2 separate regions of the Homo sapiens genome follow, and region 1 is linked to region 2. Evidence: fine-mapped expression QTL. A gene starts in region 2. The other region holds a variant in brackets. All regions are shown on one strand. Distances are between the middles of the regions. Region 1 has its middle 380 kb from the start of CNTN6. Region 2 holds the start of CNTN4-AS2 (CNTN4 antisense RNA 2).

Region 1 (9,460 bases), 670 kb before region 2:
AGAGTGTTATTGAGAAGTTATATTACTGCACAAAGTAGAGGATTGCTTTGTGATAGATTCTCTTTGAATCTGAGAAGTCATTATTTCTAACAGTACATTTCAGATAACACATGCAATTAAAATGTCTTCTTTAATTATCACTAAAGAAAATTATTTCAAAGGACAGCAGCCTATAGAGGTACTTTGCCATGACAGACAAACTTAACAAAAAGGATGAAGAAAGAAGAACGCAATGGATAAGGAATGTAAACAAATTTATGAAAGAAATAAAATAAAGGGTGGCAAGTGAATTAGCAAGGTGGAATAAGTAACAACTAAAAGCCTACAGGATATTGACGTAGGAGTGGGAACTAAAAACGAAGGAAAACAGAATTAGTTTTGAGTGTTACATGGCGGATGAACCACATAATCCTCACCCACTCTGAGCAACACGGAAATGATGGTCTATCTTATCTCCATCTGGCAGGAGAGAGGAGGGATAGTTTCTAGAGATACAAAAAAAAAAAAAAAGATTTTTGACCTCAGGCCCGCAAGTACAGTGAACGTCTGGGGTAAAGTATGAGTTTAAAAAAGGGCGGAGATACAGAAGAGTCTCAATGCCAAATTGTAGAACCCTGCTCATAGGACTCTAGAAAAGGTTGACAAAACCATGCCCCCAAGCCCTCCTTTTTTTCTTTCTTTCTTTTCTTTTTTTTTTTTTGAGACAGGGTCTCACTCTGTTGCATAGACTGGAGTGTAGTGGCACAATTTTGGGTGACGGCAACCTCCGCCTCCCAGGCTCAAGCAATTCTCCTGCCTCAGCCTCCTGAGTAGCTGGGATTACAGGTGCACACCACCACACCCCGCTAATTTTTGCATTTTTAGTAGAGACGGGGTTCTACCATGTTGGTCAGGCTGGTCTCGAACTCCTGACCTCAAAAGATCCACCCGCCTCGGCCTCCCAAAATGCTGGGATTACAGGCGTGAGCCACCGCGCCCAGCCGCCGTCCTCTTACCATAAGCATTAAGGCAACAGAAAACTAGAAAAATGTTCTCTGGAAGAACTGAATAATTACAGGGAAACAATCTTTGCATACTCTCATTGAGAGTCCAGCTGATTGTGCAATGACTCAGCAGTGAAGTCCACAGAACCACAAATACCCCCTTTGCCCATCAGTCTTCAACCTTTTAACCAGGTTTTTATTCTTTCATTCTTACATATGTACAGACACGTAGACAGCTGATGAAAGCCTTCAATGTCGGGGAAAAACAACTACCAGAAAATGGAGGGCAAAAAAGATACAAAATAAGGTAAGGCTAACATTTTCAAAAACCTCAAATTTATGTCCTCAAACAAGTAAGAAAATGTATTGGGTTAAGAGGACAGTAAGAGAGAAAGAGAAAGAAAGAATAAGTCAAAGAAAAAAGATAGCTCTTATAACTTAAAATTGGATAATCAAAATAAAATTTGGGCAGCAAAGTGGAATAATAGTATAACAGTTGAGGAATATCCCAGAGTAGAATAAAAAGATAAATAAATGAAAGATACTGGAACAGTATGAGAAAATCAAAAGGTAATTACAAAAGATTTGATATTTAGATAACAGAAATTTTAGTAAAGGAAATAAAAGCAAAAGAATTATATATTTTTCTAAAAAGTGGAAATGTTCCAGATTGAAGGACTGATGGGATTAGCTGAAGATAAACCTGCATTATGAAATTTCAGAATTCTAGAGATTAAGAAAACTTCTAAATATTTTCTGCATGGACTGAATTGTGTCCCCCAAAATTCATATGTTGAAACCTTAACCCCCAATGTGACAATCTTTGGAATAAGGAAGTAATTAAAGTAAAACGAGGTCATAAGGGTGGGGCCTCAATCGGATAATATTGGTGTCTTTATAAGAATAGACATCAGAAAGCTTGCTCTTTCTCTTCTCCATGTGAAGAAACAGCAAGAAGGTGATGGTCTGCAAGACAGACAGCCCTCACTAGAAACCAAATCAGCTGGAACCTTAGTCTTGGACTTCCCAGCCTCCAGAACTGTAAGAAATCAAGAGCTATTGTTTAGGTCACTCAGTCTTTAGTATTTTGTAATTTTAGTCCCAGCACACTAATACACTTTCATAGAGGAAAAATAATCACATGCAAAGGATAGGGATCAAAATAACATCAGACTTTCCAACAGTAACTTTGGATGCCAGAATACAATACAGCAACATCTTTAAACATTGAGAGATAAGTGACTCTGAACCTATAATCATAACCAGATATGGGGTTATCGACTAGAATCCAGACTGGGGTTTTCCAGAGTAAGTGGACATGCAGCAAGCAATTAATCTCCATCAGTTTAAGTTTAGGGTATTTTGCCATAGCAAAGCTAATGTATTGAAAATTTATGTCAGATAATTGTATGTTCTAGTCACTTTAATATTTCTAGTCACTGTAATATTTCCATTTCTGACATAAGGTGTACCACCCAGTACCATCTCTCCCTATTTCTAACAAATATGTAGCACTCTCACATAAAGTATCTTAAAAGGCAACTTTAAATCAAATCATGTACTTTCATTCTACACTTTATTGGAGATCTAATATCTGGACATGCCCAACAATCCCTCAAAGTTCCTCAGATTTTCAGTTAATGCTTAATTTTTTATTGTATCCAAGGTATTCCCTTTTGGATAGGGATACAGTGATCCCAATCCGCCTTTGAATAGTTTATTTGTTTATGTATTTATTCATTTATTTTTGAGACAGAGTCTTGTTCTCCACCCAGGCTGGAGTGCAGAGGTGCAATCTCAGCGTCCTGGCTCAAGTGACCCTCCCACCGCAGCCTCCTACGTATCTGGCACTAGAGGTGCATACCACCATGCCTAGCTAAATTTTGTATTTTTTATTGAGATGAGGGTCTCACCATGTCACCTAGACTGGTCTCGAACTCCTGAGCTCAAGCAATCCCCCTGCCTAGGCCTCCCAAAGTGCTGGGAGTACAGACATGAGCCATCATGCCCAGCACCTCCCTCTCACATATTTGATACTTGATTAAGAAACTTGAACTCACTGTGCAGCTTAGCAGCTTATAATTTAGCTATTGCTTAGTTAACTGTAGTCTTGTTTGAATGATATACTATTTCGTCAGTACTCTCAACTATTTTAAGTTTGCTCAAGGAAGAGACAATAGGTTTTAATTTCTTTTCAGACATTAACACAATTTTAAACACAATAGGTAGGCACAAAATAGGCACTTACTAAAGGTTTGCTCAATAAATTATGTCTTCCGCAGGGTGCTGTGGCTCACGCTTGTAATCCTAACACTTTGGGAGGCCAAGGCAGGTAGATCACTTGAGGTCTGGAGTTGGAGACCAGCATGGCCAACATAGGGAAACCCTGTCTCTACTAAAAATACAAAAATCAGCCGGGTGTAGTGGAAGGCACCTGTAATCCCAGCTACTTGGGAGGCTTTGGCACGGGAATCGCTTGAACCTGGGAGGCGGAGGTTGCAGTGAGCCAATATCGTGCCACTGCACTCCAGCCTGGGCAGTAGAGAGAGACTCGGTCTCAAAAAAAAAAAAAAATAGATTATGTCATGTTCTCCACTAAGGACATGGGAGATCATGTTCATTTACCCAGAAAATACCATCAATGACTTCTGTGTTATAGATTATTAAATATTGTCAATATTTTGAGGAGGCTTCACCCTTTGTCCATGCATGAATCTGAATCATCTGACTTCACTGTCATCTGGTGTGACCTAGGAATGGAAACTAGTTTTAACACCAGCTCAGGCAGAATATAAATATGAAAGTAATTTCCTGAAAGAAAACTA[T/C]TGCATCCTAAGGCTAAATGTTAATGACTTCATATTTTCCAGGTTTATGCATTATCTCAGCCACATTTCCCTGTTAATTTATATATTATATAATGGTAGAGTGAGAGTAAACACTGGAGAGCACTTAGTCCAGCAAAGTATTTTTTGCATGAGATGGAGTGACGTGCCCAGAGTCACATGACTTGATAATGATAACAGAAGCAGTGGGGCCAGTGTAATCAGATTCCAGTGCATGTACCTCCCAGTGACCTAAGAGTTGGATGATGTCATTTCTCTTGTTGAGGTTTTTTTTTTTTTTTTTGTATGTAGAGATCGAGCGCCATGTCTATCACAAAGCATATGAGCTGATGTTTCCTGGACTTAACGTATATAACACTAAATTTCAGGAAAATAATTTAGCAAGGTAGCTAAATGCTTCTGTATATAGGAAATGCTGGGTACTGCACAGCGTAATCAAGACATTTTGTTTCTAAATCTAATTCTGCAAAATTTCCCTTCCATTTCCCCTTCTAATTTTCTATTAGAATAAAGCAATAAGGTAAAATATATTAATCAAAGTCATCAGTTCAGGAGAACAGGAACCCCTAGAATTATTCAAACCATCGACTTGGATGAGGTAGTTCACATTATTAAATTAATTTGAAGAGTCATTAATTAACTTCCTTGCATTTTTAAATTTCATAGTAACATGTTCAAGGATGATAGAGCATTGAACTTCATTAGCTGATTGTTTGACTCAGTATTTATAGAAGACTGCTACTTATTCAGAAATTCAGTTATTTGTAACACTGTTTTTCTTACTGTTACATTTTAATGAATCTCATGTCTTATTGTCAGACTCACTCACATTCGATAAAGGGTAGTGGTAGGAGCTATCTTTTATTTCTATTAATCTCTTTCCCGAGGTTCATTAGCAGGGAATTCTTTCCTGTTAGATCAATGGCAAAATCACCGTCTGAAGTCATTTTGCCTTGAGCAATAATCTGAACATCTTTCTTGGAAATGATCCGCGTGCCCACTGGAAACTTTGAGAAGTAGTTTTTAATTGCATTTTTGTTAGATTCTGGTGCTGCCAAGCCCTGTTTTGATGCCTGAGACAGTATAGAAACAATTTGAAATCCACAACATGGGAAGATTGTGGTGCCAGTCAAGCTGACTGCACATTAGCACCAATGTTCTTTACATACAGGTTTAATAATCAGAAGAAGAATCCTAAGTGTTTAATAATTGAACATGTGTTTAATATTTAAGCAGCCAGATCTTTCCAGTTGTTAAACTAATATTGAAGTAGGGTGAAAGCATTCTACTTACTGGCAACTCTCCATCTTACAAATATCTTTTGAAGTTCAGTACAGTATAGGGTCTATCACTATACCGTCTGGCGGACAGTGTTACTTATCATAACCAGGACCAAAGACAATGCAGAAGCTTTCTTCTTGTCATTACAGCCATGTGTAAAACTTATATGTGCAAAAACTATAGTCATAATTAATGATTTTTTTTAATCTCACATTTTATGTTTTTTTCTTTCTTTGTGGCTATTGAATGCAGGAATAGCTATCCTGAAAATGAAAAAGAAAATAAGGCAATGTTTACATCAGGTTATGTGCTGGGAATTATTTCACTTCTAACTAATCTTCAAATTGCAAAGGAGATAATTATTTACTTAAATACTTGTTAGCCCAGAGTTTTCCTGTACTGTCCACAGTGACTTAACAATTTTCCTTAAGGATTGTTACATATTGACAACACTTGTAGCCTTAGACTTCACAGCAGTGGCTCCACCCCACCTTCCAATTGACCTTGTACATTCTTGTTGCAAAAGATATGTTCAGTTTACTGATCACAAGGTATTTTGTATTGGAGCAGTTAATTTCACCTACGTGAATATGAGCCAGAGGGTTTTAAAAATCTTATATTTCTTCCAACAATACCTGTTCTTGATATTTCTGCTCGAAATTCTGATTTTAAAATGATAATCGTGACTTTGAAATTCACTTTATTTGATTGCAGCCTTATCTTTTCCACCAAGGATTTTAGGTGACTGCCATGCAACTTAGTTCCAGATGGCCTTGAATTTTCCTAGTATAGCTTCTTTTAAAATTTGCATGAGGAAATTAAAATGACTGTTTTGTTCTTGATGGATACTTCAAGGCAATCTTTTAGCAAAATCTCATACTTTTGCACAAACTTTTAAAAACTTTTAAGTTCAGAGGTGTAAGTGCTGGTTTGTTACATAGGTAAACTTGTGTCGGGGGGGTATGTTGTACAAGGCTTAATATTTGGGTGATAAATTTAAACTTTAAAAACAATTAAAGGTATCCCTTATAGACTAGCAGTTAAGTGTGGCTGCTCATTAGAAATACTTAGTGAACTTTGGGAGGCCAAGGTGGATGGATCACCTGAGGTCAGGAGTTCAAGACCAGCCTAGGCAACATGGTGAAACCCCATCTCTACTAAATTCAAAAAGTAGCTGGGCACAGTGGCGCATGCCTGTAATCCCAGCTACTCCGGAGGCTGAGGGAGGAGAATCACTTGAGCCCAGGTGGCGGAGGTTGCAGTGAGCTGAGATTGCACCATTGCACTCCAACCTAGGCGACAGTGTAAGACTCCGTCTCAAAAAAAAATAATAATAATAATAAATACTTAGTGAATTAAAGATGCCTGGGCTCCACACCCAGAAAAGCTGATTCAGTGTCTGGGGTAAGGTCCCATCACATCCGTATTTTTCTCTTTCCCACTGATTCTACTGCCTAGCACTGTGAACTGTTACACAATAACTGATGGAGAAGAATTTCATCTTTAATTTTTCTGTTTTCTTAATCATGTGAAAAGGCAAATATAAAATAATGAAACAAACAGTTCATGAAAAGAATTGGACAGCAGAGATCTTGAGAAATCTTAGCCAATCAATACGGTCGGATAAGATTTATGAGGTACGAGGCCATGTTAGCCGTGACTATTCTCCTTCTCCTTGCATCATCTTACTAACTCTAAACACTGTGTGATATTTGACTTTGATTCTTTAATCCTTTTTAATGTTGTAATATTTCAGGACTCTTATATCAGGAAATGCTTACTTAAATTTTCTCCAAATCCCTCACGTCATATAATATTTGCTTCTTACATCTCTTGTGTTGTAGGATTTGGGAAAATTCTATTTTTCGCCACTGGACTTTAATTCTATGAAGTTGCACCTCATCTTTCCCTCCTAGAGATAACGTGCAGCTTACATGATGACTTATGAATCCATAAATGATGTTCATTTGTTTCTGCAAACTGAAAATATATTTACACTTTGGTACTTCTCTTAGGTAATCAGAATGAAAATTTCCTAGGGAAGAATTTTCATTTAAGTGGCTGGAGAAAATATTTTGCATCAGTGAAGATGTAGTGAAGAGCACTTGATAAAATACATTGTCACATTTATGTCTAAGGTTTTTCCTGTCTAATTAAAACAGCAGAGCAGGGGTGTTCACTTACTGTTTCAACTTGCCAAATGATTCTGAAAGTCTGTGACCTGTGAGTATATTCTTTCTTCTTTCTGCTGCGTGAATTGAAACCCTGTGTGCAGGGTAAGGAGTGAATCCCACTTAGATAGTGACTAGCGAGCAGCAGCAATAAACCTACACTAAGGCGTACCTTCAAACATACTTATTCTACTTCTTCTTTGCACTGTTAATACTGGCCTTTCCTGACTTCAGCCTGGATTATCCATTGCCTGACTGGGAAAGGCAGATTGTTAGAACATAAATGAAAGAAAGAGTCAGTGCTCAGTTTCTGAGCTCCAGAATAGGCCCTTGAAGCTCCTTTTGAGGGCAATCTTTGTGAAACAAAGCTTTTAATTTGCCAGACCCTGGCTCTCTAAAAAGAATGAACACATTTATATCTTTATAGATATAAACTGGAGTTTCTTCCACAATGTAGGAAAGCCTCCTGTTCTACAGAATCACCCCCTAAAATAATAAGATTTTTTGAAAGAATAAGATGGAACAGTAAAAACCTACGTAACTTTGTAATCAAAGAACTAATAAAAATAAAAATAATCCTAACGTAAGTAAATATTAATGTAGTGAAATTTCCACTGACCTTGGCACCTAACATGATAGTTGATCAAATTTTTATAATATAAAGTTCATACCTCTTTCTCCAAGATAAATTTCTTTGGAGACATTTACTTCCAATTGAGACCAGTTTTATCGAAATAAACAACATAGACCTCTGCATAAATCAATTTTTTTCTAAACAGAGAGAAATGTCTTTGCAGATTCATTTGCATGTGCAGTTTTAGCAGAGAAATTGTGGAAAGTTTAGTGGTTCTCGAAGCCACTAAACAGCCACAGTTGGCACAAATGGAAATCACTTATGCAGTATTTTCTCTTTCCTGAAGGTTTTCTTTTTTAATTCTGGAAAAGCCTGTCTCAGATTACTTCAAAATATTAACATACTGAGAAAGTCAAATACCAATTAATGCAATTTCCACATTTTGCTGATATTCTTTTCTTCTGTTTGTTAATTCTATGTATATGTATATAGCTATGTATATGTATTTATATTTATATATGTATGTATGTGTGTATATATGTATGTATATTTCCATATGTATGTGTATCTGTATGTATATATATTTACATGTGTGTATATGTATGTATGGTATATATACACACACACACACACACACACACACACACACCCACCCATGCAGTATACACGTATGTCAGCTCAGTTCTTGCAAGAAGCAGACACTTCATTCAAGAAATTTACTGGAGGGAATAGACCTGTGAAGGAGAAACGGAGAAAGAGAAGGAGTAAGCAGGGAGAGTCTTTATACCACAAGTTAGGTTTGACACCTGGGAAGGGGAAAGAAAAGAAGAATTGGGCAGAAAGAGTCTCAGACCACAGCTCAGGTTTGAAAACTTCTCTCCCAAGCCAATGACGAGATCCCCGAACAAGCTACCTATGCAGAATCCTTCACTGGGCAGGAATGGGCTGGCACTGGTGCCCTCACTCTCCTCAGTCACTGGCTGGCTGAAGTGCGTGGGAGTTGAGGCCTCCACATTCTCTGGAGTAGCAGCTTGAGCTCTTAGTCAACTGGGCTCTCCATAGCAAGCTGTCTTGAAATGTCTGAGTGGCTCATCCTGATGGCTCCATTAACAAATATCCACCCAACTCACCTCCAGCACACATACATGCTTGCACACATTTTTTTCTCCAAATTGGAAGGCCCTGATTTAGAAGGACATAAAGAGTATCCATAAATACCTTGGAAAGCAGACAGAAGGGACATTTCTTGCTGGACAAACTAAGAAAAGGAGGTATGTGAAGAGGGTGCTTATAAAGCATCTTGAATCTGGAGAAATCTTGGAGGAGTCTAGTCCAGACCATTCAACTGGTGCTTGAGCAAGTGACTGATTCCACAACCGGGGTCTGGGATGACAGTGGGAGCTGAACCTACTGCAAAATGTCAGTCAATCACAATGTTACTGAATTCTACACATTGTGCCAACCAAAAAGCTATATTAGCCACACTTTACTGTGTTTCTGGGGAGAGAATATCTGTAAAAGTTGCTTGTATGTTGATCTTTTAGCAGAAATGTTGCCCCCTTGCACCATCTTTACAAATAATACCAACACCAAAATATTAGATAACTT
Region 2 (9,460 bases):
TCTTCTCTGGATCTCCAGCTTATAGATGGCAGATTTTGGAACTTCTCAGTCTCCATAATCATATGAGCCAATTCTTTGTAATAAATTTTCTTCTCTCTCTCTCTCTCTGCCTATCTATCCATCTAGTTATCTGGATATATCGCCTATGGGTTTTCTTTCTCTGGAGAGCTCTGACTAATAGAGTAGCCAAAGCAAAGACAGTTTGTATGTGTATGGTTTTATGGGGAGTGGATTTTCAGGAAAGCAGGAAAAAGATTTTTTCCAGGGCACTTGGGTAGTGCATCTTTTTTCCTCTAACAAATGGGGGAGCATGTGGCCTTCTGAGTACTGGGTTTGCTTAATGAATCAGGAGAGCCAGTGTTTATAAATATTCCTTTAAATGGCAGAGCGTAGATCCTGGTTTGTAGTCCCCTTAGTATATTTGTAATGTTTTCATCATACCCCTAGGCCAAAGAAAATACTCAACATTAAGTAGTTTTATTCATTAGGTAGGTAGGTTGAAACAAATGAATAAGAATTTATGTACTAACGTAATTTGAAAAACATATATATCATTTGAAAAAACACACAAATTGAAATAAAATATTTTTTTCTTAAATAACCACTATTGCTTACTAATGGGATATATCCTCCTGTTGGGCACAGAATGACTTCACATACATTGGAATTAGATTGGACACTGCTACCTGATTCCCATCCACATTGATTTTCATGACGCACATTTTATTACAGCAATGGCTATGAACCCAGCTTTGCAAAGATATAACATAATGAAAAGGAATGTAATGCAATCAAATATTGAAACTGCCAACTACCTCGAGCTATCCTGACAGTTGAGCATAGCTTGGGAGTGGTAGACATAGATTATCACTGAAATTCTAATGTGAGCCTGATGGCAACTTGAGTTGAAGGGCATTCTTGCAAGACTGCTTGGTTGGGGAGTGTCACACCAGCTGGATGTTTCCAGAACCAAGGGCCTGGGAAAAACTATGCCAGTGTGCACAGTGCACACTCTTCCTCAGTGTAGCCACTCTGCTTCTGATGTGTTTTGTTGTCTAAATCAGTCAGCAACCTATCACAGATGTGTGCATCTTTTCCTACCAATCCACAAAACCCACCTGATACGGTTTGTCTGTGTACCCACCCAAATTTAATCTTGAATTGTAATCCCTATAATTCCCACCTGTCATGGGGGGCACCCAGTGGGAGGTGATTGAATCATGGACACAGGTCTTTACTGTGCCGTTCTTGTCATAGCAAATGCGTCTCACAGGATCTGATGGCTTTATAAAGAGGAGTTCCCCTGCACAAGCCCTCTTGCCTGCCGCCATGTAAGATGTGCCTTTGCTTCTCCTTTGCCTTCCACCATGCTTGTGAGGACTCCCCAGCCATGTGGAACTGAGAGTCCATTAAACCTCTTTTTCTTTATAAATTACCCAGCCTCAGGTATGTCTTTATTAGCAGTGTGAGAACAGACTAATACACCACCTGAAATAATGTACCCCTTAAAATCCTTATTTATGGATTGATGAGAAAACAGAGCTTTCATTTTATATGATTAACAGAAGATAAGTGCCTCTGTTGCCCAGATCAGACTGTCTTAGTTCATTCAGGCTGCTATAACAAGTTACCATTTTCTGGGTAGCTCCTAAACAACAGAAATTTATTTCTTACAATTCTAGGGTCTTGGAAGTCCAAGATCACGGCAACCTCAGACACTTTTGGTGAGGGCCCACTTCCTGGTTCATAGATGGGCCTTCTTGCTATGTTCTCACATGGGTATAGGAGGTAACAGAGCTCTCTGCAGCCTCTTTTATAAGGGCGCTAACCCCATTCATGTCCTAATTACCTCCCCCAAAGCCCCAACTCCTAATAGCATCACCTTGGGTATTAGGATTTCAAGATATGAATTTTGGGGGAACATAAACATTCAGACCATAGCATAGGCCAATTAAGAACTAGGTATATGTAAAAGCATGGCTCCTTTTTTGGTACAAAGCTGGTGTATGCCTCAAAATTTATATTTTGCACTCAGAAAAATTCTTCCTTTTATTCCCTGAACTGCTTGTTCATGTGATCTCTACTTCTGTATGTCCAGGTCTTTGATATGTGTATGAGTTGACTGTTTCATTGTGTCGGAACATCTTTTGATTGTGTCAAGAGTTCCAGCTTCTTTTCTTTAAAGATCCTGTTTTATAATCTGCCAGCCTGACCACACTCAGCATACAGTCTTCAAAGTTACAGGTTATGTGAAACTTTCAAATGAGATATTACTTACTCCTGTTCTTCAGCTGGAATATCAGTTGCTGGGGGAGCTGGAGAAACAATTCCCAAAATGAAGAGCACCTTAGCATTTCTACAATGTTGTCATTGCAGGGTATTGTGATAGGCAGAATGCTGGCCCTGCCCCAAAGATGCCAGTGTCCTAATCTCTAGAACCTCTGAATATGCTACCTCACATGGCAAAAGGGACTCTGCCAATATGATGAAGGTAAGGATCTTAAAATGAGGAAAAAATTCTGGATTATCCTAGTGGACCTAATATTTTATAAGTGTACTTGTAAATGAAAGAGAGGGGCAGGAGTTGTGATTATGTGATTGCTGGCTTTGAAGATGAAAGAGGACCATAAGCCAAGGATCAAGGTCAGTCCCTAGAAACTGGAAAAGCCAAGAAAACAGACTCTCTGATAGACCCTCCAAAAGGAACAGGAAGGAAGCCCTGCCCAGTCTTAATTGTAGCCCAGTGAGACCCATTTTAGACTTCTGATTTCCAGAACTGTAAGATAGTAAATGTATATTGCTTTAAATTACTACATTTGTGGCAATTTGTCACATCAGTAGTAGGAAATGAATACAGCTATAAAGTGGAAGAAACCATAGAAAGTTCACTGAGCCTTTTGAGATTAATCTTTAACTCATATTCTAAAATCATATAGCTCCCTGAGTGTCAAACTGATAACTACATAATCACACTTTCACTGTTCTCAGGTTTACTACAAGCAGAATTACCCCATACTGGTGTTCAGGCAGATGAATTCTCACTATGAAATACTTTTTAATTGGCGTTCTTATGATTGCCTCCAAAATGTTTAAACCTTTTGACAGTTGCATCCATTTTATGAATCCATCTTCAGTAATAAAGATTGAAATGCTCTAAACCACCAAAAATTAGTGGCTTAATCAGAAACTGAGGGTGGTTCTATAAATCCAAAGCTGCTGGTCATTAGACCTCACTACCATCATTATGTATTTCTTCATCCTGATGCATCTCACATTCATTTTTTGACACGTTAATGATTTCTGTCGTAGGCATATTAACTGTCCACATGTAAATGTGATGGACACTGCTTTGGTTTAGCATGGGGCTATTTCGATTGGTCATACAGCCAAAGAAGGAAGTAAAGGATGTAAACAGTGTGGGTGCTTATATTTTTTTCCAATATTTGTGGAAGCATCTGTTTCTACATATGACTGGCACAAATGATATCTTTTTGTAAAATATTTCATAATTTCTCCAAAATATACCAGCTTTCTGGTTTTGTTTTTAGAGCTAGAGACTTTGTCTGCTCTCCTGACTTTTTGATATTCTTTCTTTCCTTTTTTTTTCTTTCTTTTTTTTTTAAAGATGGCATCTCATTCTGTCGCCCAGGCTGGAGTGCAATGGCATGATCTCAGCTCACTGCAACCTCACCTCCCAGGTTCAAGAGATTCTCCTGCCTCAGCCTCCCCAATAGCTGGGATTACAGGTGCCCGCCATCATGCCTGGCTAATTTTGTATTTTTAGTAGAGATGGGCTGGTCTCGACGTCCTGACTGCAAGTGATCTGCCCGCCTCGGCCTCCCAAACTGCTGGGATTAGAGGCGCAAGCCACTGTGCCTGGCTGATATGCTTTCATTTTTCACTCCCTTTTTAATCTTCCCCTCCATTACCAGTTAACAAACTACTACAGCTGCCTCTGCAAATGATAGAAGAACAAAAATTAGGAGGAGAGGGGGCTGGAGGAGGAGAAGAAAGAAGCAGAGAAGGAGAAGGACTTCATAGAAACTACGGCTGCTTTCAGGCATATAATGTGAGATCTTGAGAGAGAATTAAGGAGTGAATTTCCACGTAACTTTCAAAGATTGTAAATAGGCTGCCTCTATTTTTTGCAATTGCCAGGCAATGACAGTGTACTTTACTTCTACTCTCCTCTGAAGGAGCAAAATGAGTGCTCTATGGCCTTAACCTCTATTTCTCTCTTAACTGGATTCAAACGTATGTCATGCTTTGAGCCTTCATTACGTAAGCGATTTTTCTCAAGGTCACTGGGAGCACCACGTTCACTGCCTCTGGATGGTTCACTGTACTGCCGTGCAGCCTTGCTGACCATTTCATGATTTGGGGTTCATGTTCATTTTATAGACTGGATTTTTTTCTGTTTTACGTTTCCCATTTTCTTTGTTACTTAGAATTAACCATGACCAGATCAATTAATAAAATAGTTCAGGTTGTCTTATTCTATTTGTGCATTTGGTTTGCAGTTACCTTCACAAATATTCTGGTGGCTAATGAAGTTAAACCAAAGTTTGTCAATCTGATTTTACATAAGCTGTGTGCCAAAACTGTGTTAGGTTCAATAATGCTCATTTTCTTGTTTAATTTTCACAACAACTAAGAATATTATCAGATTCATATTCTCCTTAGATAATTAATAATTAATCACATTATTATTCTCCTGAGAAGGAGGTGATACTATTCTCGATTTAGACATAAAGAATCTTAGGCTCAGAGAATCACCAGCAGATTGTAATTTTGAGCCTAGATCATCAATGTCTAAATTCTTGCTCCTCTTATTATACCATTCTACTAATTTATCAATGATAAATATTTGTTAAATGCATGTTGTGTGCTAGGCATTGCACCCTGTTCTTTATTTACAAACATATGAGTTATTATTATCTCTGATTTGTAGATGAAGAAATTGAGTTTAGAGTTAAATGATTGCCCAGGATTATGTTGTTACAAGTGCAGAATCAGTAATCAAATTGCTGTGCTGTGTCCTCCAGGGCCTGAGTTCCTACATTGCCATGAGCCATTAAAGGTAAGATGCTAATTAAAGGTATCCATGACTAATTTTAATGGCTAACACAAGTTTGGTGAAATTGATTTACCATAATATTTTGGTTACTTTTTAGGGCTACTCAGATACACATACTTGAACTGTAACAGCAAATAGTGAGAGGGGAAGTAAAGATTCTGAGCCTCCTTTCTGGGTTTACAGCAATATTTTGAACTAAGAAGATGAAGTAGAATTAGACATGAGCAAAGCTCCATCCCTTTCTTCTGCAGGTGAGAAAGAAATAGAGGGTGTAGGAGGTAAGCATACCTACCTAGTAAGCCTTCATGATTTAGGTATCTGGAGCAGGTGGGACTGGAGCAATTGCCATGAAGTTCACAATTTTAGTGTGGCCTGTGATCTGTTTCTTTGGCTACAGCTTACATATCAGGCCTGGGGATTTTTCTGGATTCTGAAGGTTCTAGCTTCCAGCCTTGAAATTATTCTCCTACTTGTAGGTCAGTAAAACAAGCGTTTCTTTACTTGAAAGTTTTAAGTCGACAGTTGCCATGATAAATCACTCCCACTGATAGTGTTTTAGACTTTGTTGGTTCTACCTTACGGGATTTTCATAGAGTTTCTAAAAGAGAAAGACAAGCACTAGAGTGAAGAATTGTTCTTATTGTGGAAGAATCATCAACCTTGGCTGGACACACAGATCAAGGGGTTCAGGGATGGGTGGCAAAGGATCATTGAGAGGGTTACATGTGACCCTTGCCTAACTATAGTAGTTAATTCAACTCTGCCTACACAATGACACGGATTACCGAGGATATGACTTGTATTATACTCATCCCTCTGACCCCACATCCTAATGTTAATAATGATTCTTAAACCTGGAATTGAGAACTCAAATATAAACCAGTGCCCAGCACATAGCAAGTCATCAATTAAGTTTATTGAATTAAATTAAATATTGGAATTGTATCTGTCAAAGCCATATCAGCTCTAAGCTTCTTAAGAGAAAAATCTGCCCAGAATTTCTCAGGAGGGATTTCTCAACATCGAAGCTGTCCTGTTCATATTGGATTTATTGTACTTACATAAACAGGAATACACGAGCAGGGAAGATCAGATCAGTTACCACAATAAGGGTTTTGTACCATGATATACATCATTTTCGCTCCCCTAGGAAAGCACTGCTGATGAAAACAATTTTGGAGGGAGGTGGTCTCAACAGAGTAGATGTTCAGGTGGAGGTTATCTCTGGTGCTCTGGGCTTCTTATTCATAATTTTCTCTTATGAAAGAGAGTGGTTTTCAACTTCACAATTCCTTTGCTCATTTGGAAATATAGTAGCAGAAAGATGAAGAGAGTTTGTGACCCACAACTAAAGTCTGTGTTCTCTTGTCACTTCATCAAATTAGTTCTGGTGGCATTTGGTTCCCCCCCAGAAATAAATCACTGTTAAATGATTCTTTATAAAGCAGTCCACACATTTATCATACCACAGTGATCTGAACCCATTTAGGGAATTATAAGCTACAGTTGGTCATGTTGCAGGCCTAGCAACTCTGGCCTTGTCACATTGCATCTCTCTCCACTCCCTGTGCTACCACTAATCCTTCAGGACTGAGATTCAAGGCTTTGCTAGTAAGAGGCTTGGAAATAATCATATAAAACATAATAGTGTGGCAAGGTGAGATCGAGCTTTTAATTTTTTTAAGTTCACAGAGAGCAAGAAGACAGATAGGAAAGGACCGGCAGATTGGGAAAAATCAGGAATAAGATGAAATATCCTCAGAACTTTAGCTTTTATGATTCCACCTCACATTCAGTTTAATTATGAAATTTACTGGCAGTGACAATTGGCTTTTGGCATAAATTAATCATGCCAAGCATTATACATGAAATGAAATTTCAATCCTATTTGTTGAACATTTTCTAAGAGCTTGGCAATCTTGCCCAGCACTTTACGTAGGGTTTCTCCTTATCTACCTTATGAAATATGTTATTATTATTCCCACTTTTAATATGAGAATATTTGGGGATTAGAAGGCTTAAGTAATTTGACAAAGGTCATATGGGCTAGCATAATAGACTAGAAAACAAACTCAGGATGCTGTAATTACTACACTGGAATCATTCTTAGTTTTTTTTTTTTAAATGAAGTTGGCATTAGTTTTGTTTTTTAATCTTTAATACTTTTATCTGAGAATTGATAATTAACCATTTTAAGAAAATAGTTACATAAATTTAGAAATCATTTGGAAAACAGGTAAAATTGCTACATTATTTCAATTTATTTTATTTTTAAAATAAATGATATTTTTTATCTATATTTGAGGGCTATATGAGAACCTAAGACTTCTATTGATGTTAATTATTGACTTTTATTTACTGTAGTTTTAGTGAATAATTTAATTGACTTCTATTAATTCAGTCATCATATGCTAAACCTAGAGTAACTGCTGTTAATATTTTTTTTTTTAGCTACTACAAATTGAAGTATTTTTGATTAGAGTAAAATTTATTTCTAAAGGTAACCTGAGTAATATCTCTATGTTGTAGATAGATATTACTATCTATAGTAATATCTATGCATATAGTATCTATGTAGTAGCTTTCCAATTTATTTTGCTATTATCTAAAATAAGAAATACATTTTATATTGTTCCAGTAAATGCACACATATAAACACATATATATGAAATTGATACTTCATAAAATATTAGTTACCCTTATTATAATCAGTGCTCACTTGATATTTTACATTTTATCCCATTGTAAAATAGATACTGGTCATGACTCACAGTATTGATTTCATAACTCCCTAATGGTTGTAGCCTGCAGTTTATCATTTGTTCAAATGTAGTGTGGTGGGAAAGAAAGATGATATGACTCTTCAGACAGAGAGGTCTGGTCCCTACCCTGATATGTGTCAGTTATATGTCACCTTACCTATAAAATGGTGATTATCAGTACTTCTCAGGGGAGTTGTAAAGCCTGGTACCTAGTAGATAATTAGTAAATATCAGTTTCTTTTGTCTTTAGAGCTCACACTTCATTCCATAGTTTTTTGTTGTTGTTTTGTTTTGTTTTTTTGAGACGGAGGCTCACTCTGTCGCCCAGGCTGGAGTGCAGTCGTGATCTTGGCTCATTGCAACCTCTGCCTCCTGGGTTCAAGCGATTCTCCTGCCTCAGCCTCCCGAGTAGCTGGAACTATAGGCACTCACCACCATGCCCAGCTAATTTTTGTATTTTTAGTAGAGATGGGGTTTCATCATATTGGCCAGGATGGTCTTGATCTCTTGACCTCGTGATCCACCCACCTTGGCCTCCCAAAGTGCTGGGATTATAGGAGTGAGCCACTGTGCCTGGCCTCATTCCATAGTATTATAGAAAATGTCGAACTGTTTAAGCATTCCAGCACTTTATTTTTTAATTGTTATTATTTTTCTACCCTCAGCATGCATCAGAGGAGCATTCCAGCCCTTTAGTTTGGATTTTCTTGCTATTTCTGATTTTAACTATGTGTGTTCTTCATATCTTGGACTAAAAAATAAAAACAAATTAAAAATAGCAAAAAAAAAAATTTGCAGTAATTTTAACAGACCAACATTAAGTACTCTGGAAGCCAGACCAGAAGCTAGGGGCTCGTTAATTTTTATGTATCATCAATGGAAATGACTTTTATTTGTTAATTATTTTTTATGACCACCTATTGTAACATCTTCCAACACATATTTCCCCCTCTTTCCCGTCCTCCACTCTTTAACCTTCCTTGCCCATTTTTTGTAGAGATGCCAGTGAGGTCTTTCTCAGTCAGTGCTTCAATCCCATTATTTCCCATCTCAACAGGCTTCACTGGCTCACCATTATCTTTCATATTAGTCACAGGCTCCTCAGCCTGAATTGAGGCCTTTATGACACAATTCTAGTCTACCTTTGGAGATGTGCTTCCTTTCAGTGTCCTCTCTGTATTTCATACTTACTGCTTTGATCAGACAAGATGGCCTGTCTTTTTCCAAATGGATCTCACAATTTCCAGGCTCTGTGTATTTGCTTATGTTGTATCCTCTACCTAGAAGTCTTTTCTCCTGGTCCATCTGTCCTCATTAAAAACTCCACTCCTGTTTTCAAATTCCTTGTCTGTTTCATCGTGACTCTTCTAATTGATTCTCTTTCACTCCCACACTACTTCTATTGATGTTGATTTCTCTGAAGCTGGCTCCTAGTGCCTTTTTTCTTCTTAAGGCATGATAGTGTGTCTCAAGTTGGAATGATTTCATGGCTCCCATATGGTTGATTGGTTGTGGGACTTTATCGCTAATGATAATTCAGAAAATAGTAGTAGGACTAATTGCAATTCTGCAGATTTCACCTTAAACATATGCTGCTTCTTGGGCTGTGGAAGTTGGACAC

What was found. PIP is the estimated chance that this variant, and not a neighbour inherited with it, causes the effect.
Region 1: its variant is fine-mapped to the expression of CNTN4-AS2 in lung (GTEx, PIP 0.99).

What each region holds. Positions count from the first base shown.
Region 1 is chr3:1,464,321-1,473,780 of GRCh38, forward strand. No RefSeq gene overlaps it. Among named protein-coding and RNA genes, the nearest start is that of CNTN6, 380 kb to the left of the region's middle. The variant T/C (reference allele first, on the strand shown) is at 3,809.
Region 2 is chr3:2,138,761-2,148,220 of GRCh38, forward strand. CNTN4-AS2 (CNTN4 antisense RNA 2) reads right to left here and starts at 5,481. Exons shown (of 3, transcript NR_046555.1): 1 at 5,370-5,481. The region is part of intron 2 of CNTN4 (contactin 4); the gene reads left to right.